Linked DNA regions of Homo sapiens. The protein of the gene in region 2 interacts with the protein of the main gene of each other region in a biochemical or structural test. Each region holds a gene or a part of one and is shown on either strand. Other genes may lie near its edges. The genes, in order: FRMPD1, CARD11, PRKACA, PTH1R, NOS1AP, DENND5A and PLCB1.

Region 1 (4,431 bases), on a different chromosome or scaffold from region 2:
TGAGGCCCAGCCCAGTTCCATGCTGGAACCCCTGGCCCTGCACCCACCACTGGCCTTTGAGGATGGCAGCTCAGATGAGGAATACTATGACGCGGCTGATAAGCTCACTCCCCCAGGCCCCCCGTCAGGTGAGCCGTCCCTTGCAGGTCTGCAGACACGGCAGGCAGCTCCTGAGTGCCTCCCGGGGATCAAGGCCTGGGGCCAAGCTTGAGAGGAAGGCACATGAGTGAAACAGGGTCCCTGTACACTTCTGAGGAGGTAGATACAGATTCCATGGACCAAATTTTAGGCATCGTGGCAGGCCTGCAAGGGAGGTTCAGACAACTGTGGCAAGCAGATGGGAGGGATTCATCCAACAGTGGGAATCAGGGAAGGCTTCCCAGAAGAGGGGGCAAATGGGCTGGGCCCTGTGGGAGGGACAGAATTTACAAAAAAGGAAAGGGCTTGACAGGAGTGCCCGGCAGAGCGAAGTGGCTATGTCATCACTGATCCTGAGGCTGCATTAAAGGAGGCCTTGAAGCAAGAAGAACCAGACAGACAGGCCGTCTGTGGCCCTGCAAGGCCTTCTGGGGTCCAAGGGACCCTGACATCAGAAGGTAGGGGATCTGGTGGCTGTGTTTCTATCAGGTTCCTCATACATTCCTCCACCGAGAGTGTGGAGGGTCTTTCCAAGCAGAACTGAGATCCTGGCAGGACACACACACACACACACACACACACACACACACACACACACTGCATTCTGAAGGAAACATATTGGAAAAGAGCACATGGATGTTGAAGGTGACCTGCCAGGAGCTGGGAGAGCTGCAGCCCTTGTTCCTGTCTCGGCACTTTCCTGCTGCTCTCTGATCCTCTATTCCCAGACCTCCTGTGCTCTCCCACTGTTCTGGAGAGAAAGGCCAGCTCCTCTGGGAGCCCCATCAGGCCCTTTGAGGCCCTCTGTGACATGGCCTCTGCCTGTCTCTCTCCCTCCTCCTGCATTCCTGCCATACAGACCTCCTTGCCACTTTCTACAAGTGCCTGTTTTTTCCCCCTCCTCCAGCCTTTGCACATGCTGCTCTTTCTGACCGAAACACTCCTCCCCAGATCGTGGCTGATGGTGCCCATCCGTCTATCAGATTCCGGTTGGAATTCACTTCCTCAGAGAACATTTCCCAGGCTTCCCAGGCCAGGGCAAGTCTCCCCATCTCTGTCACATGTTCTTGCATTACCTGGGGCTCTCCCTGTCTGGCACCTCGCACAGCCTGTAAATTACATATTTACTTGTATGATTCTGTGTTGATGTTTCTCTCCATCACTAGACCGAGAACTCCTTTGAGCGTTAGAACTGTGTGTTTCTCACTGTGTCCCCAGCACACAGCGTCTAGCAATTGTTGTTAAATGAATGAATGAAGTCTCCACCATCTACACTGAGTTCAATTGACTGTACCTCTAAGGAAAGGAGAAACCATGGCCAGACTCCTTACTGCTCCCCAAAGTACCCAGACAACCACTTTCCATGCCCCAGCCTTGCCCTGCAGGGCCAGCCATTGTGCCGGGGGGCAGGATGGAAGTGTGGCAGAAACCATCAGTCAGGGCCCTTTTATGGGAGTCTAGTCAGGAACATATGGGGTTCATACCAGACACTGTTTTGTTTTTGTTTTTGTTTTTTATAGGGAGCCAGTGTAGTGCTGAGAAAAGAGCCAGAACTAGGATTCCTCAGCCTGGGTTCTGATTTGGCCCCTGACTGACTATTGGAGCCTCTTTGTCTTTGGGACTTAGAAACTCCTTGGTCGGTGGCTGTCAGTAGCCTAGGGCAGTCAAATGTGACTGGGCATCAGAATCACCTGAGGGACCTTGTTTAAAAACTATAGATTTGGCCGGGCGCAGTGGTTCACACTTGTAATCCCAGCACTTTGGGAGGCAGAAGCAGGCAGATCACCTGAGGTTGGGAGTTTGAGACTAGCCTGGCCAACATGGCAAAACCCCATCTTTACTAAAAGTACAAAAATTAGCCAGGCATGGTGGCGTGCACCTGTAATCCCAGCTACCCAGGAGGCTGAGGTAGGAGAATCACTGGAACCTGGGAGGCAGAGGCTGCAGTGAGCCGAGATTGCACCACTGAACTCTAGCCTGGCCAACAGAGCAAGATTCTGTCTCAAAAAACAAAAAACAAAAAAACCTAAACCTTATAGATCCCTAGGCCCTAGCCTCAGAGATTCTGACTCCTCAGAGATTGTGGGGAGCAGCCTAGGACTTGATAAGGTTTCTAATAGCATACAGCCAGGTTAGAAATGACTGGTCTGACTACCCAAGCTCTCTGATTCTCAAGTGCTAGGCTCTGATCCTAATTCCTTCTGGCTGATTCCCAAGGGTTCTTTACAATAGTGCCTCTCCTCCCAGAAAGATCCATCCTGGGATGCACAAAACTCGATGCCTGTGACAGAGTTGTGGCCCCTTTACATTCAGACATGAAATGGCAATAACGAGCAGCTTCCTTTTAGTGAATACCTAATGAGGCAGAGGCCTTGTGCTGGGTGCTTTATAAAAATGCACTAATTCCTTTAACCTGCACGGCAGCACTGAATGGCACCATTGGCACTAAAAGACTTGGGTTAACATCAGCACAAAGAAAAAGTGTTAGGAAGTAAGATTGTTTATAGAATTGCTGGCAAGCCTGAAGACCTGGGTTCAGAAATAGACAGCAACCAGGCTAAGAGTCTAGTCACAGGATTCCCTACCTGTATTATCAAGCTATTGTGGTTGGAAAGAATGGCTCTGCTTTTTTTTTTTTTTTTTTTTTTTTTTTTTTTTTTTTTTTAATGTCTTTGGGTTTGGAATTCTGGAGAATTTGTAGCTGATTGGCTGGCGTGGACAGAGCATCTTCGTGAACAGTTCCAGCAGACTCTAACCATTGGGGAGATGTCATTCCCTAAACAGAAGTTGAGATGCTGTGACCAAAAGATAATTAAATGGATCTTAGGCATCCAAAAATTTAATAATGTCTATCACAGCTGGGTGCAGTGGCTCAATCCTATAATCCAAGCACCTTGGGAGGCTGAGGTGGGAGGATTGCTTGAACTCAGGAGTTCAAGGCTGCTGTGAGCCGTCACACCACTGCACTATAGCCTGGGGGACAGAGTGAGACCCTGTCTCAAAAAAAAAGAAAAAAAAAAGTCGGCCAGGCGCGGTGGCTCATGCCTGTAATCCCAGGCCTAGGTAGGCGGATCATTTGAGGTCAGGAGTTCGAGACCACCCTGACCAATATGGTGAAACCCCATCTCTACTAAAAATACAAAAATTAGCTGGGCATGGTGGCAGATGCCTGTAATCTCAGCTACTCCGGGGGGATGAGGCAGGAGAATTGCTTGAACCTGGGAGGCAGAGGTTGCAGTGAGCCGAGATCACGCCACTGCACTCCAGCCTGGGTGACAGAAAGAGACTCCGTCTCAAAAAAATAAAAAAAAATCTGTCACAATTATTATCCCCATCTTTCAGATGAGGAAGTTGAGGAGATCAGGATTGAACTTGCTCAAGGTTACACAGCCTAGCCAGAATTTAAACCCAGGAAAGCCCAAGGCCTGAGCCCAAGCTCTATTAACCTCTTTTTTTTGTGCTTTTTAATGTATTTTTTCTTTCCTGACTCCCAGGGCCCAGAGATGTTTCTACTGCAGAACCCAGTGCCACAAGCTTGCAGAATAAGGCCAGCACTTCTAGCCCTGAGAACAGCCTGCCTTGTGGGCCAGATGGAAGACAGCCAAGCAGGAGGGGAGGGGTGAAGAAATATGCCAAGACCCTGAGGAAAAGAAGGTCTTTCCTACAGACCGACTACACCTCTCAGGTCTCATTTCCCCTGGTGCCATCAGCCTCCCTGGAGAGTGTAGACGACGTGTGCTACTATGACAGGGAGCCCTACCTGGCCCTTGGTGCACCCTCCCCAACTGTGTCCTCTCTGCAGGACATGCAGGGTGAGCCTGGCCTTCTGGAGACCAAGGCCTTGGGGCTGCTGGCTCCTCTGAGGGAGACCAAGAGCACAAACCCAGCCTCCAGGGTCATGGAGATGGAGCCCGAGACCATGGAAACCAAATCAGTCATCGACTCTCGAGTGTCTTCTATTTCTGCCATTCGCTTCCGGATTGACCCCAACAATAAAGAGAATTCTGGTGTTGTCCCTGCTGCCAGCTCCTCAGCAAGCACTCCTCACTGTTCTAACCCAGGTTCATCTGGCCCAGATACTGCTCAGGCAAGGCCTTCCCAAATCTTACCTCTATCTCAAGACCTGGATGGGATTGCCCCCAAAGAACCAACCATAGAGCATGGAGACAGCTCCTTCTCCCTCTCCAGTGGTGACCCTAACCCAGACAGAGCCTGCCTGGCCAGCAACCCAGGACTAAATAATGTCTCTCAAGGAGACACACTAGAGCTCCAGTTGGAGCCCCATGTCCAGTT
Region 2 (4,431 bases):
GAGGCCTCAGAAGGAACCAGCCCGCCCGGCACCTTGATCCAGGACTTCCAGCCTCCAGAAATGCCAGGCAATAAATGTCTATTGCTGCAGCTGCCCAGTCTGTGGGATTTTGTTATGACAGCCCCAGCAAATTAATACAAAGGGGGTGCAGAGAAATGCGGCAAAGGCTGGAGGGGAATGTAAAATCAAGACAGGTTTGTCATTTGTTTGTTTTAAAGTGGGTGAAATTGCAGTAGATCAGTCGCACTTGGATAGGAACGGTCCCCGTAGAGAGGGAATACAGAATGGAAGATGCAGCAGAGAGAGAAGACAGTTGCTCGAGAAGCGTCTTTGATTGGAGAGAGGTGGGCTCTGGTGCCTGTGCAGAGTGGGCCTTGGCAGGTGGCAGGATCATCATCTCAGGCACAGGGCAGGGCGAAGTGCCAGGCGCAGAGGCAGGAGGCCCTAGGCAGGCGGAAGGGGGAAGTAGGGCCACCAGTGCAGTGGGAGGAGGGCCTCCGAGGCCCATTAGTCTGACTGCCACAAGACATAAGGTTGATCTTTAAAATATATTTTAAAATTACAGCTGGGCACGGTGGCTCATGCCTGTCATCCTAGCACTTTGGGAGGCTGAGGCGGGCGGATCCCCTGAGGTCAGGGGTTCGAGACCAGCCTGGCCAACATGGTGAAACCCTATCTCTACTAAAAATACAAAATTAGCTGGGCATGGTGGCACACACCTGTTATTCCAGCTACTCAGCAGGCTGAGGCAGGAGAATTGCCTGAACCCGCGAGGTGGAGGTTGCAGCGAGTTGAGATCACACTACTGCACTCCAGCCTGGGCAACAAGAGTGAGACTCTGTGTCAAAGAAAATAGAACTGTATATATATAATTACTAAATTATATATATAAATTATATAAATAGATATTATACAAATATAATTATACATATTATATACAATTATATATAAATATATAATTATACATATAATTACATATATAATTTTTTAAAAATAATATGTATATATGTACAAATTACTTAAGAAAGATACAGGGCTGGGCACGGTGGCTCACATCTGTAATCCCAGAACTTTGGGAGGCTGAGGCTGGAGGATAGTTTGAGTCTAGGAGTTCGAGACCAGCCTGGGCAACATAGCAAGACCCTCATCTCTACAAAAAATAAAAAAATTAGCCGGTCATGGTGTCACATGCCTGTAGTCGCAGCTACTTGGGAGGCTGAGGTGACAGGATTGCTTGAACCCAGGAGGCTGAGGCTGCAGTGAGCTATGATGGCACCATTGCACTCCAGCCTGGGCAACAGAGCAAGACAAAATTACAGCAAACTTCCACATAAAATGAGTGAGGAGACACGGTGACCCGTCCCCGGCGCACAGACGGCCTTCTGCTTGTACCGGAGCTGGGTCCTTTCCCCACTAGGTCATGCTCTTCGCCAGTCTAAGACCTCCCCGGGCTCAGAACACTCGGAACAGGGCCCGGTAAAAGGCCGTCCTTTAAGAAGGAGGAGAAACATTTTTCAAAGATCGAGAACTCTCCTACGAAGAGCCAAGAGCCTCTGCGTGCCTCAGGGACTCAAACGGGGATCACGGTGCCTGTTCACTGGCAAACAGGGACCCCCATGTCAGCTCGCAGAGGCTCTCCGCAGGGTATCAAGCTGCTTCTTGAAACGCGTCTGAGAATTGAAGTCAGGAGTCTTGGAAGGCGGTGTGAGGTATCGTTATTATTCTGCTGAACGTTTCCCCCGGAACCAACGATACCTGAATCCCTTTAAAAATAGGCCATTTCTTCTTAGAAGATTTCCACGAATCACATAATCCTTACGCAGAGGCAGGCAACGAAGCACTAATGTCAATAACGTTACAGTTTTACTTCACAGCAGCATTTATCCACTGACATAGCAATTTACTAAACCGCAGAAAACGCCGGCACAGGGCCTCTGCTTGCCCTTGGATTTTTTTTTTTTTTTTTTTTTTTTTTTGAGATGGAGTCTCACTCTGTCACCCAGGCTGGAGTGCAGCGGCGCGATCTCGGCTCACTGCAGCCTCCGCCTCCCGGGTTCACGCCACTCTCCTGCCTCAGCCTCCCGAGTAGCTGGGACTACAGGTGCCCACCACCACGCCTGGCTAATTTTTTTGTATTTTTAGTAGAGAGAGGGTTTCACCGTGTTAGCCAGGATGGTCTCGATCTCCTGACCTCTTGATCCGCCTGCCTCGGCCTCCCAAAGTGGTGGGATTACAGGCGTGAGCCACCGCGCCCAGCCCTCCTTGGATTTTTTAAATTTCAGAGACAAGGTCTCCTTCTGTCGCCCAGGCTGGAGTGCAGTGGTGCAATCACAGCTCACTGCAGCCTCTACCTCCTGAGCTCAAGTGATCCTCCCACCTCAGCCTCCTGAGGAGCTAGGCCCACAGGCATGACCACTACACCAGCTAACTTTTACATTTTTTGTAGAGATGGGGTCTTACTATGTTGCCCAGGCTGGTCTCAAACAACTAGGCTCAAGCCATCCTCCTGCCTCAGCCTCCCAAAGTGCTGGGATGATAGACATGAGCCACTGTGCCCAGGCTGCTTCCAGATTTTTTTTTTTAAAGGGCCATCACCACCAAGACACGTATAAGAATGTTCACAGTGGTTTCATCATAACAGCCCCAAACTGCAAGCAACAGAAACATTTATCAACGGTCAGGTGGATAAGTAAATTGTGGTAATTTTTTTTTTTTTTTTTTTGAGACAGGTCTCACTCTGTCACCCAGGCTGGAGTGCAGTGGTGCGATCTTGGCTCACTGCAACCTCTGCTTTCTTGGGCTCAAGCAATTCTCCAGCCTCAGCCTCCCGAGTAGCTGGGATTATAGGCGCAAGCCACCAATGCTTGGCTAATTTTTGAATTTTTGTAGAGACGGTTACATCCTGTTGCCCAGGCTGGTCTTGAACTCCTGAGCTCAAAGCAATCTGCCTGCCTTGGCCTCCCAAAGTGCTGGGATTACAGGCATGAGACACAGCGCCTGCCCCTATTGCGGTAAATTTATGCCATGAAATACTGTGTAGCAATGAAAAAGAAACATTGAATGTGACTCCGTCCACGTCAAGTTCAAGGACAGGGATGGTGATAGAGGTTGGAAGGGTCCTCCCTTAGGGGACAGGGGAGGGGTAACGACTGGGAGGGGATATGGCACTTCCCCAGAACCTAGAAAGGACCCAAATCTTGATCTGGGTGATTGGCTCCAGAAGGGCATGTGAAGGCCCGTCAAGCTGTTTGTACGCTTAAGACTGTACTGTGTGTGTGTTATACCTTAATTTTTAAAAATTATTATTATTATTATTACTGATGGGCAATCAGTTTTACCTTTCTTTTTTATTTTATTTTTAGAGATGGGGTCTTGTTCTACTGCCCAGGCTGGAGTACAGTAGTGCAATCCTAGCTCACTGCAGCCTCAAACTCCTGGGCTCAAGTGATCCTCCCATCTCAGCCTCTGGAGGAGCTGGGACTACTACAGGTGTGTGTCACCATGCCTGGCTAATTTTTTAAAGTTTTTTTGTAGAGGTGGGATCTCACTATGTTGCCCAGGCTGGTCTCGAACTCCTAGGCTGAAGTGATCCTTCCACCTGGGCTTCCCAAAGTGTTGGGATCACAGGTGAGAGGTGCCACGCCTGGCCTATCAAACTTTTTGATGTTTGCCAGTCTGACAGGTGGAAAACGCTATGTCCCTGTTGTATTACTTCACATGGATTTAATTACAAACGAAGCATGCTGACTGACCTGCTCATATTCCGTGTGTTTGTACCCTTTCACCATTTTTTCCATTGGTTGAATTCTCTAATTTTGGGGTCTGGACACTCCCACTGAGGGTCCAGTCCTGTGCCATCCACTGTGCCGAAGGTGGCCATACTCACTCCCAACTGCAGCCGCCTCCACCCCGCAAGGACAGAGTTGCTAGCTTCGACAGAGACCCTCTGGCTCACAAGGCCTAAAATATTTACTATTTGGAGCTTTCGAGAAAAAGTGTGCCAGTTCCCATGTCTCATTGGTTTACAAGAGTTCTTAGTAAATTAAGGAAATAGCTCTTTGCCACATATACTCTGTTTTGCATTTAGCTCATCTCTCTCTGTTCTCCCTCCTGGCCTCTGAATAAGCAAGTCAGAAGTAAAACTTAAAAGCAGAAGCCTGCAGAACCCCTTGACACATTTGGTGCGTTTGGAAACACTTTGGTCTATGCTAATCTAGGGGTGGTATCATTATTATTATTAATTTGTGATAGAGTCTTGCTCTGTTGGCCAGGCTGGAGTACAGTGGCACAATCGTGGCTCACTGCAACCTCTACTTCCCGGGTTCAAGTGATTCTCCCGCCTCAGCTTCCCGAGTAGCTGGGATTACAGGTGCTCACCCCCATGCCTGGCTAATTTTTGTACTTTTAGTAGAGACGGGGTTTTGCCATATC
Region 3 (4,431 bases), on a different chromosome or scaffold from region 2:
CGGATTTCTTCTTCCTCATAGTCGTCAAAGTTACTCGTATCCCCAGGGCCTTTAAACTTTGGTATGAAGGGAGCTTCCACCTGGAGAGGGATCAAGAATCACCCAGACCTCAGCATTCAACATAATCATTATTACAACAATAAATGCGAATGGCCTAACATTCAAGAGATATTTACTCTGACTCAGGCCTGTGCTTACCATTAGGTTATGGATTCCTCTTAACAGCCCGAAACTCTTAATGTAGCAACTCATCAAAGGGGAAATTACTTCCCAGAGAGAGGCATCTGTTGCACAAGGTCATGGAATGGCCAAATGACCCCAGAATCCCATTTCTAGACCCCACTGCTCTAAGCTCTCTACTCTAGGTTGCTCCTGAACCTGTGTTCTCTTCTCTATTTCTCTATTGGCTGTCCTCCCTGACTCTTGGCCTGCTCCCAAACCCTCAGCAGGCTTAAGGAGGGGAGGCCCACCTTCCTCTGGTAGATGGCAATCCAGTCAGTTGTGGCAAACCACTTGTGGTTCTTGATATCGTTGACCCCATTCTTGAGGTTCCCAAAGCGCTTGGTGAGATCTACCTGCAGGAGGTTCCGCAGCAGGTCCTTCAAGTCAGAGCTGAAGTGGGAAGGGAAGCGCACCTGGAGGAAGGGGTACAAGGACAGGGTGGGAAGCTGGTCTGGAACTTGGGAAGCCCATGATGCTTCTTTCTCCATCCAACGGTCCTACTGGGTGTGGGCCTCCAAAGCAGAGTGCCTGCCAGCATCTTGTAAAACAGCTCCTTGAGCCTACCCTACAGTTTCCAATTTAGGAAGTCTGATACTGTGGCCTGAGAATCTGCATTTCTTTAAAAACTTTAAAAATTCAAGAGTTAGTTATTTTAAGAAGTTTTTGTAGAGACAGGGTCTCACTACGTTGCCCAGGCTGGTCTTGAACTTCTAGGCTCAAGCGATCCTCCTGCTTTGGCCTCCCAAAGTGCTAGGATTATAGGCGTGAGCCACCACACCCAGCAAGAATCTGCATTTCTTTTTTTGAAAAAAAAAAAAAAAAAAAAAAAAAAATAGCCTCACTCTGTAGCCCAGGCTGGAGTGCAGTGGTGCGATCTGGGCTCACTGCAACCTCCGCCTCCTGGGTTCAAGGAATTCTCCTGTCTCAGCCTCCTGAGTAGCTGGGATTACAGGCTCACGCCAAGACACCTGGCTAATTTTTGTATTTTTAGTAGAGACGGGGTTTCACCATATTGGTCAGGCTGGTCTTGAACTCTTGACCTTAGGTGATCCACCTGCCTTGGCCTCCCAAAGTGTTGGGATTACAGGTGTGAGCCACCGTGCCTGGCCCAAGAATCTGCATTTCTAACAAATTCCCCAGCAATGGTGCTGCTGGAAAGGGGTCCCTTTTAAGAACCATTGCTCTAAGGCAAGTGCTATGATGATTTCCATTTCAGAGAAGGGGAAACTGAGGCTTGGGTTAAACAGCTCTTCCTAGGTCACATTGAGGTGTGTGATGGGGCAATTCCATCTCAGGTCTACTGGACTCTAGAACTTGCATTCTCAGCTGCTGCTGCTGCTGCTTAAGGCATCTCTGCTGGGGTCTGGAGACTTCTGAAATATTCTTGCTTATGACAAACTTTTTCTCTCCTCTCTTTCTGCATAGCTAAGGCTCTTCCGTTCTTTAAAGCCCAGCTCAACTCTTCTTGAAAGTTTTCCCCAAACCCTCTGAGCCCACGCCTTGTATGCAAGTCATCACTGGAGTTATAGTTGCAAGAAACGACTTCTTGTTCCTGCTGTGCCTCTTACACGCTGTGTGACCTTGGCCATGGCCCTTAACCTCTCTGGGCCTGCGCATGCCTCTCAGATGTGGGGCAGATATGCCAGGGCTGCACGAGGGAGATAATACCACTGACGGTGCGGGGGAACTAGAAAATGCTACAAAGAAGGGAGTCATGTGCATCTTCTCCTGTGGGATCTTCTGTGTTTTTTTCTTTCTTTTTTTTCCCACTCTGGGACATTTTTTTTTCTTTTTTTCTTTTTTTTTTTTGAGATGGAGTCTTGCTCTGTTGCCCAGGCTGGAGTGCAGTGGCACAATCTCAGCTCACTGCAACCTCTGCCTCCCGGTTTCAAGTGATTCTCCTGCCTCAGACTCCTGAGTAGCTGGGATTACAGGTGTGTGCCACCATATCCGGCTAATTTTTGTATTTTTAGTAGAGACGGGGTTTCACCATGTTGGTCAGGCTGGTCTTAAACTCCTGACCTCGTGATCCGCCCGCCTCGGCCTCCCAAAGTGCTGGGATTACAGGCGTGAGCCACCACACCCGGCCAACTCTGGGCCATTTTCTTGGCAGTTTCTTTTGGTCCGGTGGCAGATGCCTCATCTTTCCCTTTTTTTGAGACAGAGTCTTGCTCTGTCACCCAGGCTGAAGTGCAGTGGCGCAATCTCGGCTCACTACAACCTCTGTCTCCCGGGTTCAAGCAGTTCTCTGCCTCAGCCTCCCGAGTAGCTGGGATTACAGGCACCCGCCACCACGCCCAGCTAATTTTTGTATTTTTAGTAGAGACAGGGTTTCACCATGTTAGCCAGGCTGGTCTTGAACTCCTGACCTCGTGATCCACCTGCCTTGGCCTCCCAAAATGCTGGGATTATAGGTGTGAGCCACCGCGCCTGGCCTTCATCTTTCTCTTTTAGTGATGCTATGTGTCCAGCTGGGGCACCCCACTTGCCTGAATTTTTTTAAAAGACAGGGTCTGGCTCTGTGACCCAGGCTAGACTGCAGTGATGCAATCACAGCTCACAGCTCACTTCTGGGCTCAAGCGATCCTCCTGCCTCACCCTCCCGATGAGCTGGGAACACAGGGGTGCACCATCACGCCCAGCTAATTTTTAGTTTTTTTTTTTTTTTTTTTTTTTTGAGACAGAGTCCTGCCCTGTTGCCCAGGCTGGAGTACAATGGTGTGATCTTGGCTCACTGCAACCTCCGCCTCCTGGGTTCAAGTGATTCTCCTGCCTCAGCCTCCCAAGTAGCTGGGATTACAGGCGCCCACCACTATACCCAGCTAATTTTTTTTGTGTGTGTTTTTAGTAGAGACGGAGTTTCACCATGTTAGTCAGGCTGGTCTCGAACTCCCGACCTCAGGTGATCTGCCCGCCTTGGCTTCCCACAGTGCTGGGATTACAGGTGTAAGCCACCGCGCCCGGCCAGTTTGTTTTTTTTTTTTTTTTTTTAGAGATGGGGTCTGGCTATGTTGCCCAGGCTGGTCTGGAACTCCTGGCCTCAAGCCTCCACTTCCCAAGGTGCTGGCATTACAGGTGTGAGCCATTGTACCCAGCCCCAAAGTTTCAAAGCCAGTCGGTGGCAGAGCTGGGACTGGGGCCCAGGCTGAGCCTGAGGGTGCTCCCACCACAGTGTCATGACTCCGGGCCAACCAAAAGCTCCTGTGTAGGAGATGCTGGACCAAGTCGGGGGATGGTCGGGTCTTCCCAGCAAGGTGGTTGAGCTGAGGGCAGAGGTGGGGTCCCCAACCTCTCTCCGGCCATCAGTGCCTACAATGATTGCCTACGGTGATTACCTACTCACCAAAGTGTGATCTTGGCCAAGACACATCCCTTTTCCCAGCCTGTTTCCTCACCTCTCCTACAGAGGGTGCCACTATCTCAGGGTGTGACTGATGGGGATTCTGGGGCCTGGTGGATGGTGGGCACTTTGCACCTGTCATAGATGTGAGCTGAGATGGCTTCACCACCCCTCATCTGAACCCTCAGAGTTAGGCAAGTCTGGGTTTGGGAGAGGAAGCATGGGCTATAAATGCTAAGTGAGGGCAATCCTGGGTGAGGCTATGGACAGCACCTGGGAACAGGAACCAAATACATTCGTTTTTCTGCCTTGGAATTTGCGAAAACTCACACTAACTGGGATGAGGAGCGAAAAGGAGGGTCGTCTGGCAGGGCGGTTTGTGTTCTGTGGCCAAGATGTTCCCGTGAGGCTCGGGATTTTGGAAGCCCATGGGATTCTGGAACCGCGGGGTTGGGGCTGGACAGCAAGGGGGCTTGAGGTGTTGGCCTCAGTGTGGCCGGCGCGTCCAGCTTCACCACCTGGCCTGACTTAAGGAACTTCTAGATTATTCTGACAACAAGCAGGGCTCCCCAGGGAATAGGATGGGTGAGCAGGGAACGGTCTGTTTCTTCCAGGGCTGTGTCCCCACATCCGGACCTCACCTTCCCAGAGACGATCTTCTCATAGATCTGGATGGGCTGGTCTGCGAAGAAGGGCGGGTAGCCAGCGGCCATTTCATAGATAAGAACCCCCAGGGCCCACCAGTCCACGGCCTTGTTGTAGCCCTGGAGCAAGATGGGGGGGCACAGGGTGAGGAGGAGGCGAGAGCAGGAGAGCAGAGCCGGCCTCAGGGGAAGGGGAGGGCTGGGGAGGCTCCTACTTTGCTCAGG
Region 4 (4,431 bases), on a different chromosome or scaffold from region 2:
GGGAAGTGCTGAGGACCTCAGAGGAAGGGAGAGCCTCTGATGATGGGATTCTCAGGCAGATGTTTCTTCCAGGCCCTCTCTTTTACAGATGGGGCAACTGAGGCACGGAGAAGGACAGCCCAGGCTTACACAGGCATCATGCAAAGGTGGAGGAATCCCAGGCTCATTGGAACTGCCTGGAGCTCTGCCCCGTGTAGGGAGCTGCTGCTGGTCAGGAGGAGGAGGCTGCCTGACTGCCCTGCTCTCTAGCAGGCAGATACCCCCACTGGGGAGCAGGGAGAAGAGGCTTTGAAGTTAGGCGCACAGGCAGACAGCCTCCCCAGGAACGGGCTCGTCCCAGGGGATGGGGTTGCTGTGGAATAGGACTGAGGGGCTGGGACAGCCCCCTTCCCAGCAAGTGGGCCCCAGACCCTGGCCCAGGAGGAGGAGGTGCTGCCCACTCTGTGTCTCCAGCTTTCTGCCTTTGCCTGTCTCCCTATTTTTTTTGCTGTTCTTAGTCTGTCCACCCCTCCAGCTGGGGGGATCTCTCCTCCCCACCCGGCTTTGTCTCTGTCTCTCCTCTCCCTCTAGCCTTCCCTACCATTCTGCTTTTAGGTCACTCTCAGGGAGTGACAGTCTTTCCAGGGGTCTCCTCACTTCCCCACAGGATATGCTGTGCTTCTCCTACAGGGGTGCACTGTGAGGTCAGTCTCCTTCAGGGAACTCCATCCCTTCTCCATGCCACACCACACCCACCTCCTTGGGGAAACAGCTTCTACCCTGGGTGAAGCCAGACGTGTGCATGTGTGTGTGTGAGGGCTGGAGGGGGCCCCTAAATCCTACCCCCTGCCTGGATGATTCTGACCTCAGACCTACATTCCCTGTGTCCGGGACTGCAACAAAACTTGCAGAAAACAGAGGTCCCCAAAGCAAAGTCTGTGGGAGTACGCAGCAGGGCCAAAGCCCAGCCTTCTGTTGGGTCACACTGTCATCTTCCAGGGAGAAACAGCCATGGTGCTCACAGAAGCAGAGGATGGTGAAAACTCAACCACAAATTGCCAGATTTGGGACCCCAAACGAGGCTTCAGAAATAGGGAGGCTTCAGGCAGCTGGAACCCACAGTCCAGACATCCCAGAGACAGCAGGCACCCAGGATCCTGGATCAGAGGGGACTCTCACCCAAAGTTCGAACTACTGGGGGAACTCAAGACTGCGTGCCTTAGACCTATCCCGCGGACCCTAGGGTAAGCCCGCAGCCTGTCCCGGAGTGTTGGCGGCGGGGGACTCACCAGCGCGTACGCGGAGCTGAGCACGGGGCAGCAGAGCAGGAGCGCCAGGCCGGGTGCGATCCGGGCGGTCCCCATCGCCACCGCCTAGGGCCGCGTCCCTCGGGGCAGCCGCCGCCGCCGGCCCTGGTGGTGGTAGGGGGTGCAGAGCTGCGTCAGGCTGGCCGCCCCGCCCACGCCCCGGCCTATGGGACCCCGGCGTCCCGGCGGCCCGAGGCCCCGGGGCCCGGCGCGGGGCCCATGCGCTGAGGGCGAGCGAGCGAGCGAGCGAGCGAGCAGCGCAAAGGAGGGAGGGAGGGAGGGACAGGAGGGAGGGAGGGAGAGCCGGAGGCCGGGCGGGCGGCGGGCGGGCGCCGAGCGCTGCGGAGCGGCCCGTCTGCCTCGGAGCGAAGAAATCACATCCATATGGCCGGGCCCCCCGCCCCCGGCCCGCCCCCCGCCCCCCTCCCGCGCCGCCTTTTCTTTCTTTCTTTCTTTCTTTCTTTCTTTTTTTTTCTTTTGGGGAAATGGGAGCTGTGGCTTCGCCCCACGCCCAGTGGGGGGAGGGGGCGGGGGAGGGGTCGGGGTCGCGGTCTGCGGGGGGCGCGCAGGACTGTTATTTTTAGCTCCGCGACTTTCGGCGTAGGGAGTCAGGGCCGGGCAGGGGGCGCGTTCTGAGCCGCGCGGGGCGTGCAGTTAGGGGGTGCGATCTCAACTTTGCAGCCACACTGAGCCCTTAGGTGTTCCGGCCGCCAGCCCCCGGCCGTTCGGCCTCCTGAGATCCCAGACCCTCGGCAGCCGCCTCCCGCACCCCTTCCCCATCCTTGGCCAGAGCCCCGCTTGCGCCTGTGCGGCTCGGGCGCGCAGCGGCCCCGACGCTCTGTCGGTCTGCCTGTCTGTCAGTCCGTCTCTAGCTCCCCCGGCCTTGGCCTCAGTTCTTCCAGCGGCCCCAAGCTCCGTTTCGGTCACTCCCTCGCTCCCTCCCTCCCCCTTTTCTCTCTACGAAAACATTTGCAAGTTTCCAAAAAAGCCACCGAGCCGAGCGGCGCGGGGCTGGCGACTCCCCCGGGTTCCGAGGAGGCGCCGCCGACTGACACCGAGACAGAGCAGCCTGGCTGCTCCGGCCAGGCCCGGAGTCGCTCCTCCCCGACTCCGGCCACTTCCCCTCGGCGCGGGTCCCCAGCCCCGACTTACTCCGAGCGCGCCGCCGCGGCCCCCGCCTTGCCATGGATGTCGGGGCCCCCCCGACAGCCTCCCCAAGCCAGCGCCCCGTCCGCGGCCCCGGGGGGACTTCATGGAGCTCTCGGGATACCCCCCGCTGGCCGGCCTGGCCTCCAGCGCCCCCCGCCCGGCCGCCGCTCGGAGCCACCGCCCGCCGCGCGCATCCCTCGCCTCGGCGTCTGCCGCTCCCCTTCTCCCCGGCCGGGCGCCTCTTCCCTCCCCCGCGCCCTCCCGGGCCTCTCCCGCCCCCACCCCCTCCGCAGCCGCCGACGCGGGAGTGTGGAGAGGCCGAGAGGAGCCTTCCGCCCCCCGCCCCGGGACATTGCGCTAGAGGCCGAGGCCCGGAGTCTTACGGCGGCGGGATGTGAGTGCTGGGGAGACGGGGCGGGGGCAGCTGTAACATCGAGACCCGAGCAGGGAACCCGGGACGCCGCCGCCGCTTCATTCTCTTCTGGAAAGCACGGGCTTTTAAATTTTTTTTCCCTTGATCATCCGGCCCCCGCTGGCGAATAGAGACCCTGAGCCGAGAAGCGAGCCCTCTTTCATCATGGGCGAATCCCCTGAGGAGGCTGCCCGGTACCCCCGCGCGCCCCCGGCCGCGACGCTGTCAGTCCACTGGGCTCCCGTTCGGGCCGGGTCGGGGTCCCTGGGGAGGCCGCTCGGCTGCCAGCCCCGAGCCCGGCTTGGCTGCTGCCGCCCTCCCCCACGTCCAGCCCCACCCTCGCCTCGTCCCCTGCCCTCAGTCCCATCCCAGGCCTGTCGTTCCTCTCGGCCCTAGGCCAGCCCCGACCCCCGCCCAGGTCTGCAGCCACACATCCCGCTCCCTCCCTGCCCAGCGTCTCTTCGGGTCCGGGTCTCCGAGTCTCGACCCATTCAGCTGCTGGCCGGGCCTCTCCAGCTTGCCCAGCCCCAACCCCGGAGGCTCGAGGCTGCCAGACCTGGGGCTCAATCCAGACACCCACTCTCAGGCTTCACCTCCCTCCCCCGTTCCCACCCCCACTCCCAAAAGCTATCGGCCGGCTCGGACCGGGCCGCCTGGGACCCTCGACTTAGGGGAAGGCAAGGAGGAGTCCGCGGGGGTTGGGGCTGAACGGGGCGGGATTTCTGTGTTTGGCTGGGGAGGGCACGCTGGAGCTCTAAGAGGAGGGGCCCTTCGACCCCAAACCTACCACCTCCCGGTACCAAGTGGGGAAACTGAGGCAGAGGGAGGGGCTGGGGATGCCTGGAGCGCAGGGCTTTAAGGATCGCGGAGGAAGCGAATGCATGAGGCCCTGGGAAATGAGTCTGGGCTAAGCAACAGCCTGTGCTTGCCCGCTTACCAGTTGTGTGTCCTGGACACTACCACTCTTCGGCTGTCTGGACCTCAGTTTCCTCATCTGCAAAATGGAGAGGTTGGCCAGCTGATTCAAGGGCAATGTTAACTTTACTGTTTAGTTTCCACGAGGGTGGGCATCCTGGCCCATGGGCTCCAGGGGCTCTCAAGACTCAGCCTGTGGATATTGAGCTCCTCGGAGCCTGCAAACCTGCCCTCCAACCCTCAGTGCAAATCTGTCAAGCCCAAGTCCTAAGGCCTAGGATCCAGCTGCAGCCACCCTTCTGCTGGCTCAAGCCCATCCAGCTTCCAGACTGCACTCCCAGGTGCATTCCCCATGTATTTCTTCTGCTGCTACTTTCTTCTTCTTTCTTCTCCTTCTCCTTCTTCTTCTTCTTCAAGACAAAGTCTCACTTTGTCACCCAGGCTGGAGTCCAGTGGCATGATCTCTGCTCACTGCAACCTCCGCTTCCCAGGCTCAAGTGATTCTCCCAAGTAGCTGGGACTACAGGTGTGTACCACCAACCTGGCTAATTTTTGCATTTCTTGGTAGAGACGGGGTTTCACCATGTTGACCAGGCTGGTCACGAACCCCTGACCTCAAGTGATCCACCTGCCTCAGCCTCCCAAAGTGCTGGGATTACAGGTATGAAC
Region 5 (4,431 bases), on a different chromosome or scaffold from region 2:
GGCCCTGACCTTGCCGTTGACCCTATTTCTGATTGAGTGGAGCCACAGGGGCATAATGCCTAAGGAATTTAAACTAAATCTGTCCTCCATAAAGCTGCTAAGGACAGAACTGATATTTTGGTCAAGAAGTCAGACTCATTTTTTTGTCTCATATTAATTGAGAGAAGATCTGGGGAGGGGTGAGAACAGGTGTGATACAGTGAAATACATGTTTGGTCTTCATCCCTGTTTCCTGACATATAGCTCCCCAAACCCTTGAGATCTCCAGAGTGGTAAGAGTGTTTTTTGTATGCTTATTAGATGATTAGTGGTTGGGGAACCCCTGGAAGCTTCGGGATGGGGGCTGCTCACAGGACAGACCAAGGTATGATTAGAGGATAGGATTTTTCAGTCCCACGCCCCAACCTCCAGGAGATGAGGGGCTAAAAGTTAAACTAATCACCAGTGGCCAATGATGTAATCAATCATGCCTACATAATAAAGCCTCCATTAAAAACTCAAAAGGACTGGGTGTGGGGAGCTGCCGGGCAGCTGAACATTTAGAGGTTCCTGGAGGGTGGTGCACGTTGGGAGGGCATGGGAGCTCTGCCACCCTTCCCACAGACCCTGCCCTATGCATCTCTTCCATCTGGTGTTCATTGGTATCCCTTATAATATCCTTTAAAATAAACCAGTAAATGTAGGTGTTTTCCTGAGTTCTGTCAGTTGCTCTAGCAAATCAGTTGAGTCCAAGGAGAGGGTAGTGGGAACACCAATTTATAGCCACTTGGTCAGAGGTGTAGGTGACAAACTATTACTTGTGATTGGTGTCTGAAATGGGGGAAAGTCTTGTGGGATTGAGCCCTCAAACTGTGGGATCTGATGCTGTTTCCAGGTAGATAGTATCAGAATCAAACTGAGTTAGAGGACACTGTGTGCCCTCTGCAGAACTGCTTGCTTGCTTGGTGTGTGGGAAAAAGCCCCATACATTTGGTCATAGAAGTATGTTGTGACAGTATAGCAGGAAGAAACTGAGTTTGTTTCTTCCTATATCCACTCAACAGGGAAAGAAATGTCAATAATATTGTAATCTGGATGTCAGATGGTGGGTGGCTATTAAGGTTTTCTCCTCTTTGGAAAGGGAGGCATGGAGAAATTTCAGCTGGGGGTCCCCCAAATCTATTTGGTTCTAAGGAACAGGACAACTGCTATGGGAAGCCCACAGATAAGCCTCAGAGAAGGGTAAGCTTAATCTTGCACTTATGAGTACCGTTACTTATCCCAACAAAGAGTGGCATCGAAAGGAACCTACTGAGCAAATAAAATTACTAAATTATTCATCTTCCATTTTCTTTGGAACCAAACCAACCAGAGAGAAATGTGGAACAAAGTCTTTCAGCAGATATAAACAAAGAAAGTAGAGAATCCTGCATACCTCTAACTGGCACTTATTGAGGGCTCTCTGCACACATACTGCAGAGTCAGTTTCTTTTCTTTTCTTTTCTTTCTTTCTTTTTTCTTCTTTTTTTTTTTTTTTTGAGACTCACTCTGTCACCCAGGCTGGAGTGCAGTGGAATGATCTCAGCTCACTGCAACCTCTCCCTCCTGGGTTCAAGCGATTCTCCTGCCTCATCCTCCCAAACAGCTGGAATTACTGGCGCCCGCCACCACACCTAGCTAATTTTTGTATTTTTAGTAGAGACGGGGTTTCCCCATGTTGGCCGGGCTGGTCTCAAACTCCTGACCTCAAGTGATCCACCTGCCTCGGCCTCCCAAAGTGCTGGGACTACAGGTGTGAGCCACCATGCCCAGCCCAGAGTCAGTTTCCTGCTTTCCAGTCTGAACATCCCAACAGGACAGGCCATTTGAATGCACCAGACCAGGAGCTGGAGTGCTTGTCTGTTGGGTACTCCCTAGGCAGTTGTAGACAACTCACTTCTCTCTGGACCTCAGTTTCTCCATCTGTCAACCGAGAGGACTGGCTTGAGGCTGAGACAGTTGATAATTCTACATCCAGGTTGACATTGTGGTCAGTACTGGAGGCAATTTGTTAATGGCTCATTGAAGAAAACTCTCAGTTCCCCATTGTGAAGTCAGAATTAGAATTGAGGGTGAAGGAAAAGTCCCCTCTTACAGAAGCCAGGAAAAAAATTGAAAGCTTTTTTTGCAGGTACCCAAGTTCAATGGTGGAGTACCAGCAATACCTAGAAGAAGACCTTTGACTCAAATGCTTCCCATCGCAGATCCATTGGCACCAAGTGCCATGAGAAAATGCTCCTTGTACCAGATTAAATAAGAGTTTTACCTCTGTAAACCCAGTTACACTATTTCAGGTATTTTCAAGTCCTGTGAATATGTGAGCACCCACTGCTGCTACTGCCTGAGCCAGCACTAATGAGCCCTCTGCTTCTGCAGCTGTCAAAAGTGGTACTGGGCATAAGGCTCAAACCTCAAGCTGTGGCAGGCTGTGCTGCAGGAGAACCCAAACCAGGCCATACTGAGACAAAATAGCCTGGACTTCTTTTAACTTTGAGGTGCAGCATTTTATAACTATGTAGGCTCGAACTTGAAGCACTGAAACGAGGCAGCGTTACGTGAAACCTTGGTTTGGGCAGTCTGCTACAGCCCTCTGTGCTTTGTTTCCCCATTCATACAACAGGGGCAGAGAGCACCACCTCCTCCCCACCAGATGGGATTTTTTTTTTGTATTTAGCATGCTTTTCTTTCAAAGAATTAAGCCCCTTTTGTAAAAGTAGACCATATTTCTTTCTGGAAAGGTACAAATTAGTGTCTCCTTTGCAGAACTGTGTTGTCTTTGGCAATGAATGTTGTACTTACATACTAAGTCAGTGATGTGGCACAGAGTGATGTGACACTACGGCCACGTCCCGAGTGCCAGGGCTCAGATGTCCAGCTCTGCACTCTGGCCTCATCATGACACACAAAAGTTCAGCCCTGCACCCTCCAGCTCTACACTGCTTTCCCAAACTCTGAAACCCACCCTCAACCCACCCAGCCACACCAGACCATTGGCGCCCTCACTCTCCAGCTTACTTGCCTGGACTCCAGCTCCTCCATCAGAAGTGAGGGCAGGGCCAGGCTGAAGTTAGGGAGTAGCAGGCACATGGAAATGGCAGTGGAGAGAACCAGAGCAATTTGCCCCACCACACACTGGACACAGAAGCAGAGGCAGGCGCCGCTGTCTCAGCATGCACATGGCAGGGACTTGGGCAGTGCATGCCAGCGTGCTGGGGACTGGGAGAAGCCACAGGGACATATGCTAAATAGAGGGCCTGGGGTGGGGATGCGGAGTTTTGTTAGCACTGTTCCTCTAACTACAGCATACATGATTGCGAAGCATAAATAACCAATTCCTTGTTCCTGAACAAACAGAAGTGGCAGCAGGTAGAGGAGAAATCTTTAAATAGCAATACTGAACTGTACTAACACTTTCCTCAGGAAAAAGGCTGGGAATTGGCAAACTGTGAATAGACCTGGCCTACTTAACACTTGCCAATCAGCCACAGTGCCCAGATCAGTTCTGAGACTATGTCGGCCCAGCCCATGGCCATGCAGGTGCCAGCTACATCCCAGCTTCGCTTCGAGGCTTAGCTATACTCTCATTCACACCCTTGAACTTCTGGTCCACCTAAAAGCAGGAAGCTAGTGCAGCCAGGCAAGCCTCATGCTGGGTCGGAAGAGCGGTCAGAGGGACTTGGGTATTCACTACTTACCCACTGAGGTCTAACCCGGAAATACTTAAGAGTTGGTTGAATACCACCTTTGCCCATATACCTTTAAGGTCAGGGCGGGCCCCTTTGAGACCAGCTCAGAACCAATTTAGGGTGAGGCTGGGAGAGGTCTTGCGGTCTTAGACCAAATCAGGACACTGTGAAGGAAACCTAAGCCTGGTCCCCATGGCAACAGCAGAACTAGACTAGTCTGTGGGAAGAAATGGGGGTGGTGGGGGGGGGACGACATAAATAGTGCAACAAGTGACATCAAGGGTACACTTGTCTGCAAGAAACTGTCTTTATCCTTAGATTTTTATCCAGGAACAACATAGGAGGATTTGGATGCTCTCCGAGAGAAGGAAACTATTCCCACCTGAAAGGCTGAGGTCATAGTTTTACTCACTGGAATTCTGGGGACTGCTGGTAGTTTAATAAAGACAGACAGAAGCCTTGCAGTTTGGTGGCAATAGAGTCTGACAGAACAAGTAAGAGCTGACCTCGTGCTGGAAACTGAAATCAGCCCCCCCCCGCGTAGAGAAACCAAGCTTGCTATACTTGGTCTATTTCAAATGTGTGAAAGATGCCAAGAAGACCCACCTATTAATCCAGCTACATCTTACGTAATTGTTTTTACCCAAGGATATAGACACTAGTAAAAAAGCCCTTGAATTAAACACTACAAAGAAAGTGGAAGAATGAACAGTGTGCGGAGAAACCT
Region 6 (4,431 bases), on a different chromosome or scaffold from region 2:
ACCATGTTGGTCAGGCTGGTCTTGAACTCCTGACCTCAGTTGATCTGCCCGCCTCGGCCTCCCAAAGTCCTGGGATTACAGGTGTGAGCCACTGCGCCCAGCCTAATACCCTGTTTTTATAAAAAATAAAAATAATTAAGAAAGAGAAAAAGGTGACTGTCTAGGAAAGCTAGAGGACTAGTCAAATCATACTCCTCCTTGACTGTATTGAGCAGTGAAATTCGAACTTCAAAATTATCGAATGTTAACATGAAAGCACCCTTTGCAATTATATAACCTTCTGATTTTACAGATGAGGAAACTGAGGCCCTGAGAAAGTGGGAGAATATTTGTCTCCCTTGCCACATTTCATTCTTTTCTGCTACTTGAGTGATATTTTGCATGCTTTGCAGACCTTTGATGAGTGGTGGATGCGGGGGGAACAAGCAAAAAATTTGTCTGGCAGGGCAGGAACAGACGTTATGGTAGTTTTTTTCTAGTCCAGGTTTCTGTTTCATGGTAAGAAAGAATACTGTGTGTGCAATAGCAAGACTTGGAACCAACTCAAATGTCCATCAGTAAGAGACTGGATAAAGAAGATGGCACATACACATCATGGAATACTATGCAGCCATAAAAAAGGATGAGTTCATGTCCTTTGCAGGGACATGGATGAAGCTGGAAACCGTCATTCTCAGCAAACTATCACAAGAACAGAAAACGGAACACCACATGTTCTCACTCATAAGTGGGAGTTGAACAATGAGAACACATGGATGTAGGGAGGGGAACATCACACACTGGGGCCTGTTGGGGGGGTGGGGGACTAGGGGAGGGATAACATTAGGAGAAATACCTAATGTAGGTGACTGGTTGACAGGTGCAGCAAACCACCATGCCATGCCATGTGTATACCTATGTAACAAAACTGTATGTTCTGCACATGTACCCCAGAACTTAAAGTATAATTTAAAAAGGAAAAAGAAAGAATACTGTGTGTACTGTGTGTAGACCGGGTACGGTGGCTCATGCTTGTAATCCCAGCACTTTGGGAGGTTGAGGTGGGTGGATCACTTGAGGTCAGGAGTTTGAGACCAGCCTGGCCAACATGGTGAAACCCTGTCTCTACTAAAGATACAAAAATTAGCCGGGCCTGGTGGCACACACCTATAATCCCAGCTACTCGGGAGGCTGAGGCGAGAGAATCGCTTGAATCTGGGAGGCGGAGGCTGCAGTGAGCCAAGATGGCGTCACTGCACTCTGGCCTGGGCAACAAAGTGAGACCTTGTCTCAAAAAAAAAAAAAGAATACTGTGTGTGTTGGCTGGGCGCGGTGGCTCACGCCTGTAATCCCAGCACTTTGGGAGGCCGGGGTGGGCGGATCACAAGGTCAGGAGATCGAGACTATCCTGGCTAACACGGTGAAACCCTGTCTCTACTAAAAATTCAAAAAAATTAGCCGGGTGCGATGGCGGGCACCTGTAGTCCCAGCTACTCAGGAGGCTGAGGCAGGAGAATGGCGTGAACCTGGGAGGCGGAGCTTGCAGTGAGCCGAGATCGAGCCAGTGCACTCCAGCCTGGGCAACAGTGTGAGACTCCTTCTCAAAAAAAAAAAAAAAAAGAATACTGTGTGTGATTATCATTAAGGATATCTTTTTTTTTTTTTTTTTTAAGAGACAGAGTCTGTCTCTGTTGCCCAGGCTGGAGTGCAGTGGCACAATCATGACTCACTGCAGCCTCGACCTCCCAGGCCCGTAGCTTTATTGCTTTATCTTTTTTTATAATTTCATATTTAAAGAAGCATTGAGGGCTAGACATGGTTGCTCACGCCTATAATCCCAGCACTTTGGGAGGCTGAGGCAGGTGGATCACTTGAGACCAGCCTGGCCAACACGATGAAACCCCGTCTCTACTAAAAATACAAAAATTAGCCGGGCGTGGTGGTGGGTGCCTATAATCCCAGCTACTCAGGAGGCTGACACAGGAGAATCGCTTGAAATGGGAGGCAGAGGTTGCAGTGAGCCGAGATGGCGCCACTGCACTCCAGCCTGAGTGACTTGGTCTCAGAAAAAAGAAAAAGAAGCATTGACATGAATAGAACAAAGAACTCCAGTATATCTCTTAACCAGATTCACCGATTGTTAACATTTTGCCCCATTTGCTTTATCATTTATGTGTGTGTCCATATATAAACAATTTTATTGAGATATAATTCGTATACCATACAGTTCACTTATTTCAGTGATTTTTAATTTATTTTTACAATTAGTTTTACAATCACACTACAATCCATTTTGAAATGTATTAATCACTCTCCCCTGAAAACCTGTACCCATTAGCAGTTACTCATCATTTTCTCCCAACCCTCTAACCCTGAACCCTAGGCAACCACTCATCTACTTTCTATCTCTATAGATTTGCCTGTTTTTGACATTTCATATAAATGGAGTAATATGTGTGGTCTCTTGTTACTGGCTTCTTTCACTTAGCATAATGTTTTCAAGGTTCACTCATGTTGTAGCATGTATCAGTTTGTCATTCCTGTTTATGCCAGAAAAATATGCCATGGTATGAATATACAACATTTTATTTGTTTATCCATTAGTGGAAGGACATTGGATTGTTTTCTTCTTTTTTTTTTCTGAGACAGAGTTTCATTCTTGTTGCTCAGGCTGGAGTGCAATGGCGCAATCTCGGCTCACTGCAACCTCCGCCTCCCAGGTTCAAGTGATTCTCCTGCCTCAGCCTCCTGAGTAGCTGGGATTACAGGCATGTACCACCACGCCTAGCTAATTTTTGTATTTTTAGTAGAGACGGGGTTTCACCACGTTGGCCAGGCTGGTCTTGAACTCCTGACTTCATGATCCACCCACCTTGGCCTCCTAAAGTGCTGGGATTACAGGCACAAGCCACCGTGCCCGGCCTTCAGTTTTTGATTGTTTTGAATAATGCTATGAACATTTGTGTACACTTCTTTTTTTGTGTGTAGGCCTATGTTTTCATTTCTCTTTGCTGAATACTTAGGAATGAAATTACTGGGTCATATAGTAACTGTGTTTAACCTTTTTTTTTTTTTTTGAGATGGAGTTTCGCCGTGTTGCTCACGCTGGGGTGCAATGGCGCGATCTTGGCTTACTGCAACCACTGCCTCCCGGGTTCAGGCCATTCTCCTTCCTCAGCCTCTTGAGTAGCTGGGATTACAGGTACCCGTTACCAAGCCTGGATTTTTTTTTTTTTTTTAGACGGAGTCTCACTCTGTCGCCCAGGCTGGAGTGCAGTGGCACAATCTTGGCTCACTGCAACCTCTGCCTCCCGGGTTCAAGCAATTATCCTGCCTTGGCCTCCCAAGTAGCTGGGACTACAGGTGTGCACCACTATGCCCAGCTAATTTTTGTATTTTGTACTAGAGACAGAGTTTCACCATATTAGACAGGCTGGTCTCGAACTCCTGACTTCATGATCCACCTGCCTCTGCCTTCCAAAGTGCTGGGATTACAGGCGAGAGCCACTGCGCCAGTCAATTTTTGTATTTTTAGTAGAAACGGGGTTTTACCATGTTGGCCAGGCTGGTCTCGAACTCCTGACCTCAGGTCATTCACCTGCCTCGACCTCCCAAAGTGCTGAGATTACAGGTAAGAGCCACCGCACCTGGCTGCCCGACTAATTTTTAATTTTTTTGTAGAGACGAGGTCTCACCATCTTGCCCAGGCAGGTCTTAAACAACCTGAAAAATGATACTCCCGACTTGGCCTCCCAAAGTGCTGGGATTACAGGCGTGAGCCACCGCGCCCGGCCGTGTTTAACCTTTTGAGAGACTGCCTGCCAGTCTGTTTTCCAAAACAGCTGCACTAGTGTACATTTCCAATAGCAGTGTATGAGAATTCCACTTTATTCATATCCTTACCAATACTTATCTATTGGTTTATAGCCATCTTAGTGGCTGTAAGTGGTATCTCATGGTTTTAATTTGCATATCCTAGAAGACAAAGATTTTTATTTTTATTATTTTATTTTATTTTATTTATTATTTTTTGAGACAGAGTCTTGTTTTGTGGCCCAGGCTGGAGTGCAGTAGCACGATCTTGGCTCACTGCAACCTCTGCCTCCTGGGTTCAAGCGATTCTCATGCCTCAGCCTCCCGAGTAGCTGGGATTACATGCATCTGCCATCACGCCCAGCTAATTTTTGTATTTTTAGTAGAGATGGGGTTTCACCATGTTGCCCAGGCTGGTCTCGAACTCTTGACCTCATGATCCACCCTCCTTGGCCTCTTAAAGGGCTGGGATTACAGGTGTGAACCACCACACCTTGCCGACTGAGACTTTTAAATAAGACTTCTTATTTAAAAGAGAAAAGGATATCCCTCCCCAGAGATGAAGTAGCTATAAAAAGTTTTATGAGCCAGTTTCAAACTGGGAGTCGATGTGGACTACACTTAATTTTCATCTTCCTC
Region 7 (4,431 bases), on a different chromosome or scaffold from region 2:
GCCTCTTGAGTAGCTGGCACTACAGGCGCCCGCCACCACGCCCGGCTAATTGTTTTTTTTTGTATTTTTTAGTAGAGACGGGGTTTCACCGTGTTAGCCAGGATGGTCTCGATCTCCTGACCTCGTGATCCACCTGCCTCGGCCTCCCAAAGTGCTGGGATTACAGGCGTGAGTCACTGCGCCCGACCCTACCAAAACTTTTATTATTATTATTATTATTATTATTATTATTATTATTATTATACTTTAAGTTTTAGGGTACATGCGCACAATGTGCAGGTTAGTTACATATGTATACATGTGCCATGCTGGTGTGCTGCACCCATTAACTCGTCATTTAGCATTAGGTGTATCTCCTAATGCTATCCCTCCCCGCTCCCCCCACCCCACAACAGTCCCCAGAGTGTGATGTTCCCCTTCCCGTGTGCATTCATAGATGGGAATTGAACAATGAGAACACACGGACCCCTTACGAAAACTTTTAATGTGTATTTGATCTTTAGAGAAAAAAAATGTAGGAAGAAAGTAGAATCTTTCCTAGTTACTAAATTTTTAATGACTAAGCCACTTCTTTATGCAATGTAGATAAATTCAACACTATTGTTAGGAACAATTTTGTGATGGGGTATACCTACCTTAACAGACAAAGTGTTTGCCACTATCCCATCTACGATGCCTTCAGTAAATGGATCAAAATGCTTGTCAGGCCTCCTCATGAACTCTGGCTTCAATCTGTAGCCACTCTTCCCGTTGTATTCATACATCCCCATATTTATTTGCATAGCCAGGTCTGAGTATCAAAAACACAAGCCTTATTGTGAGTTTATCTATACTTGGGGTAAGAAAGTAAGATTGTAAAGTAAAGTTGATCCCAGTCCACTTTTGTGACTGTATTCCCTTGGAAGAGAGTCATTGTAGAAATGCAGGAAACACAGATAAGAAAAAAATTACCTCTAATCCCCAAGTCCAGAAATAATCACTGCCAACTGGTGGGTGTGCAGTCTGCTTTTCCACTTCAAATATATTGTTGACATACAGTATATTGATTTCATTTAATATGTATCTGCCTTAATTATAACAGCTGTCTCAAATTCCTTTGATTAAATATATTAGAATAATATATTTGTATAATATATGTTAAATATTAATATAATATAATATATCTAATATATAATATATAATTATATATAAATATAGTATATACAAAATATCTAATATCTAACATATATTAGATATATTATTTATATTATTCTAATATATCTAATATCTAATGTATTAAATATATCATTCTAATATATATTAGATATATTAGAATGATATATTAAATATATCATTCTAATATATAAAGCATATATTAGAATATTATGATACAATATCTAATATCTAATTTCTAATTTCTAATTCTAATATCTAATTTCTAATATGATACACTATCTAATACAATATATTAGAATATAATATCTAATACAATATATTAGAATATAATATCTAATACAATATATTAGAATATAATGTATTTAACCATTCCCCTTTTGGGCACATTTATGTTTTTTCTAATTTTTCACCCTTATAATGTTTTGATAAACATCATTGTGGTGAAATCTTTGAAGCCATGATCAGTGATTTTCTTATGAGAGGAATTCCTGGGACAAATGATGTCCTCATTGGAAAATTTTTCTTTGATGCCTTGCTAAAATGCCCTTCAGAAAGCTTAAACCAGCTTATACTACTAAGCCATGTTTTTGAGAATGGACTTCTCCATGCCTCATTAAAAGAGGATTCTATTATTCCTTTTCCTGCTTTTTAATTTGTACAAAAAATTTCTTTTTTATAATTTGCACTTCTGTGATTACTTACAATTAACATCTAATTCTACATAGACTCTTTTCCAGTGGACAAAGGTTACTGGTCAAAATTTTCCTCAGACTCAGTGCATCAGATGAACGTTCACACATATTGCAACTGATAGAGTGAAAGAATACATATTAAAGTTGTAAAGAATCTGGGAAGTTGTCAACAGTTCCAGATTATCTGTGTCATGACTCATCTCTATGTGCATAATAAAGAGGTGATGGCAGAATTATTCTAAAGTTTCATTTAACAAATCATTTTTAGAGCAGAAAAAAATCAGTGAAATTTTCTCTTATTAAACTATTATTTTATAAACATAACTATGATGTCAAAATTGGACAAAATTTCAAAACAATAATGAATTTATGACACTTGAAAAAATTAGCTTCAAAAGCCTAAAAATTACATTAGCAAGTCATATGTTCTAAAAATAATACACAACAAATAAGTAGAGCCTATTTTGGGAACAAAAGGATAATTATATATTAGGAAATGAGATCTATTAAGATAACTTATCACATTTATGTCTGAAAAATGAACATATGATCATCCCAATGGATGTCCAAGAGACATTTAATAACATTCAATACCAACTTCTAAAACATTAGTCAAATAGGACCCGTGTCCTTTAGTATGTTAAAGAATATCTGACTCAAAGTCACAGCCAATATCTGACTTGATGATATCACAACAGTGAAACTTATATTAGGATCAGGATGAAGAGAAAGATGCCCACTCTTCACTTAGATAGAAGACGTTAAGACCTGGTGTTTGATAGACAAGGAGGTGACTATAGTTAACATTAATAGTTTGTACATTTAAAAATAGCTAGAAGACAGCAATTCGATTGTTTCTAATGTAAAGATAAATATTTCAGGTGATGGATATCCCAATTACTCTGATTTGATTATATAAATGTATTAAATTATCATACGTACTGCAAACGTTTGTACAGCTATTATGTATCAATAAAAATAAATTAATTGATTTTAAAAAGCCATAAATATCTAGCAAATTACTCTTAATCGTGGCTTAGAGCTTGATAGATACTTAATAAAAGGCATAATGTTGAACTTCCTACTGAATAAAAAAGAAAGATGCCCACTCGGAACCCTCATTTAATACCTGAGAACGGTAAGGCCAAAGCAATAAATAAGGCAGGTGGAGAAATGAGATATGATTAAATTACTGTCTTTGTGTGTCTAAAAATTCCAACGGAATGTACTGCAAAAAATAGGCTATTATAAGAGTTTAGAAAGATGATCATTTGTAAAATACAATCATTTATAAAATAAACAAATATACAAATATAAATATCCAGAAACAATCTGTTAAAAATATAATATAAATAAAAAGAAAGATTCAGTCTAAGAAAACTAGACCTCTAATGAAGACAAGTGATTTTGCTGAGGACTTAATACAAAAAATTTTAAAGTAAAGAGAAAAGCATTTTTCCTGTGACAGAAAAACTAAAAATTAAAAAGGTGTCAGTTTTTGTCAGATAAATTTATAAAGTTAATATGATTTTAAAAATAGTTTTTTTTTAGTAGTCAAGGAAAACATAATACAGTTAAATTAAGTTTATTTGAAATAAGAATTCCACTGGCAATGGCAAAAAAGGAATTGAAAATTAATAGTAGTAAAGGAGAATCACCACTTCCAGGTATTAATCCATATTATAAAATACAGTAAAAACAGTGAGTTATTGCATCCAGGAAGGCAGACAAATTTATTAATGGAAAAGATACAAAGTGAAAAAATGGGTCTGAATTAACAACAACAATGAAAAAGGCTGTATCTATTAACGTGTAATTCCAGTTCAGTGGGATGATTGTTTAGGATGAAAAAAAAGGATTGATCTCACTGAGACTATGGACCAAAATTAAATTTTGATGGTTGAAAAGGTTAAATAAAAAAGAAACCATGAGAAAAATGGGAGCACAAGGCTTTCATCCTGGGGTGAGGAGGCTGTAATCATACAAGTAAACCAAGAACTTTTAATTAAACATTAATCAGCCTGACCTGATCCACTGAATTGTCTCTGTTTCACAAAAGACAATATACCCTTTAAATAAAAAGTGCTGTTATAAATCAACAAGAAAATTGACGATAGTCCTGAATATGTAATTCATAAAAGCAGAAATACAAAAACCAAGAAACATATTTTAAAAAGTTCAACCTTAATAATGATTCAAGAAATGAATTTAAAATAACAGTGAAATAACACATTTTTGTCTGGTTTAATTATTATTATTATTTAACGATAATACTTAACCAAGATCGCAAATGAGAGGCCACGTCATATTAAACATTGCTGACAGCGGAGTAATGTAGCACAACATTTTTTACAGACAATTTGGCAATATTCATAAAGGTACTTAAACTGTTCACATCTTTTAACGTTAGTAATTCTGTTTTTAAAATATTTTCCAAAAGAAATTTAGGGAATAGAAATAAGTTTTTAGCGAATTGTGAAATATGCTTAGTATGCAGCTATTGAAATTCATGTCTCTCTATGGCACTTAGGTGAGTGTGTGTTTATATATGTATATATGAATATATATGTATTTATTTTAAATG

Evidence for each region.
Region 1: the proteins of CARD11 (region 2) and FRMPD1 interact in a test that uses a peptide from one of them, tested with the Homo sapiens proteins (one large-scale study listed by IntAct).
Region 3: the proteins of CARD11 (region 2) and PRKACA interact in a test that uses a peptide from one of them, tested with the Homo sapiens proteins (one large-scale study listed by IntAct).
Region 4: the proteins of CARD11 (region 2) and PTH1R interact in a test that uses a peptide from one of them, tested with the Homo sapiens proteins (one large-scale study listed by IntAct).
Region 5: the proteins of CARD11 (region 2) and NOS1AP interact in a test that uses a peptide from one of them, tested with the Homo sapiens proteins (one large-scale study listed by IntAct).
Region 6: the proteins of CARD11 (region 2) and DENND5A interact in a test that uses a peptide from one of them, tested with the Homo sapiens proteins (one large-scale study listed by IntAct).
Region 7: the proteins of CARD11 (region 2) and PLCB1 interact in a test that uses a peptide from one of them, tested with the Homo sapiens proteins (one large-scale study listed by IntAct).

What each region holds. Positions count from the first base shown.
Region 1 is NC_000009.12:37,740,757-37,745,187, forward strand, and holds part of FRMPD1 (FERM and PDZ domain-containing protein 1), read left to right. Parts: coding exon 1-128; exon of another isoform or gene 129-596; intron 597-3,632; coding exon 3,633-4,431. UniProt on the Homo sapiens protein: Stabilizes membrane-bound GPSM1, and thereby promotes its interaction with GNAI1.
Region 2 is NC_000007.14:3,033,343-3,037,773, forward strand, and holds part of CARD11 (caspase recruitment domain-containing protein 11), read right to left. Parts: intron 1-4,431. UniProt on the Homo sapiens protein: Adapter protein that plays a key role in adaptive immune response by transducing the activation of NF-kappa-B downstream of T-cell receptor (TCR) and B-cell receptor (BCR) engagement.
Region 3 is NC_000019.10:14,093,158-14,097,588, forward strand, and holds part of PRKACA (cAMP-dependent protein kinase catalytic subunit alpha), read right to left. Parts: coding exon 4,422-4,431; intron 4,327-4,421; coding exon 4,204-4,326; intron 636-4,203; coding exon 471-635; intron 81-470; coding exon 1-80.
Region 4 is NC_000003.12:46,880,472-46,884,902, reverse strand, and holds part of PTH1R (parathyroid hormone/parathyroid hormone-related peptide receptor precursor), read right to left. Parts: intron 3,842-4,431; coding exon of another isoform or gene 3,785-3,841; intron 2,909-3,784; exon of another isoform or gene 2,721-2,908; intron 2,655-2,720; exon of another isoform or gene 2,439-2,654; intron 1,392-2,438; 5' UTR 1,344-1,391; coding exon 1,269-1,343; intron 1-1,268.
Region 5 is NC_000001.11:162,359,531-162,363,961, reverse strand, and holds part of NOS1AP (carboxyl-terminal PDZ ligand of neuronal nitric oxide synthase protein), read right to left. Parts: intron 980-4,431; exon of another isoform or gene 1-979. UniProt on the Homo sapiens protein: Adapter protein involved in neuronal nitric-oxide (NO) synthesis regulation via its association with nNOS/NOS1. The complex formed with NOS1 and synapsins is necessary for specific NO and synapsin functions at a presynaptic level.
Region 6 is NC_000011.10:9,254,651-9,259,081, reverse strand, and holds part of DENND5A (DENN domain-containing protein 5A), read left to right. Parts: intron 1-4,431.
Region 7 is NC_000020.11:8,729,597-8,734,027, reverse strand, and holds part of PLCB1 (1-phosphatidylinositol 4,5-bisphosphate phosphodiesterase beta-1), read right to left. Parts: intron 791-4,431; coding exon 636-790; intron 1-635.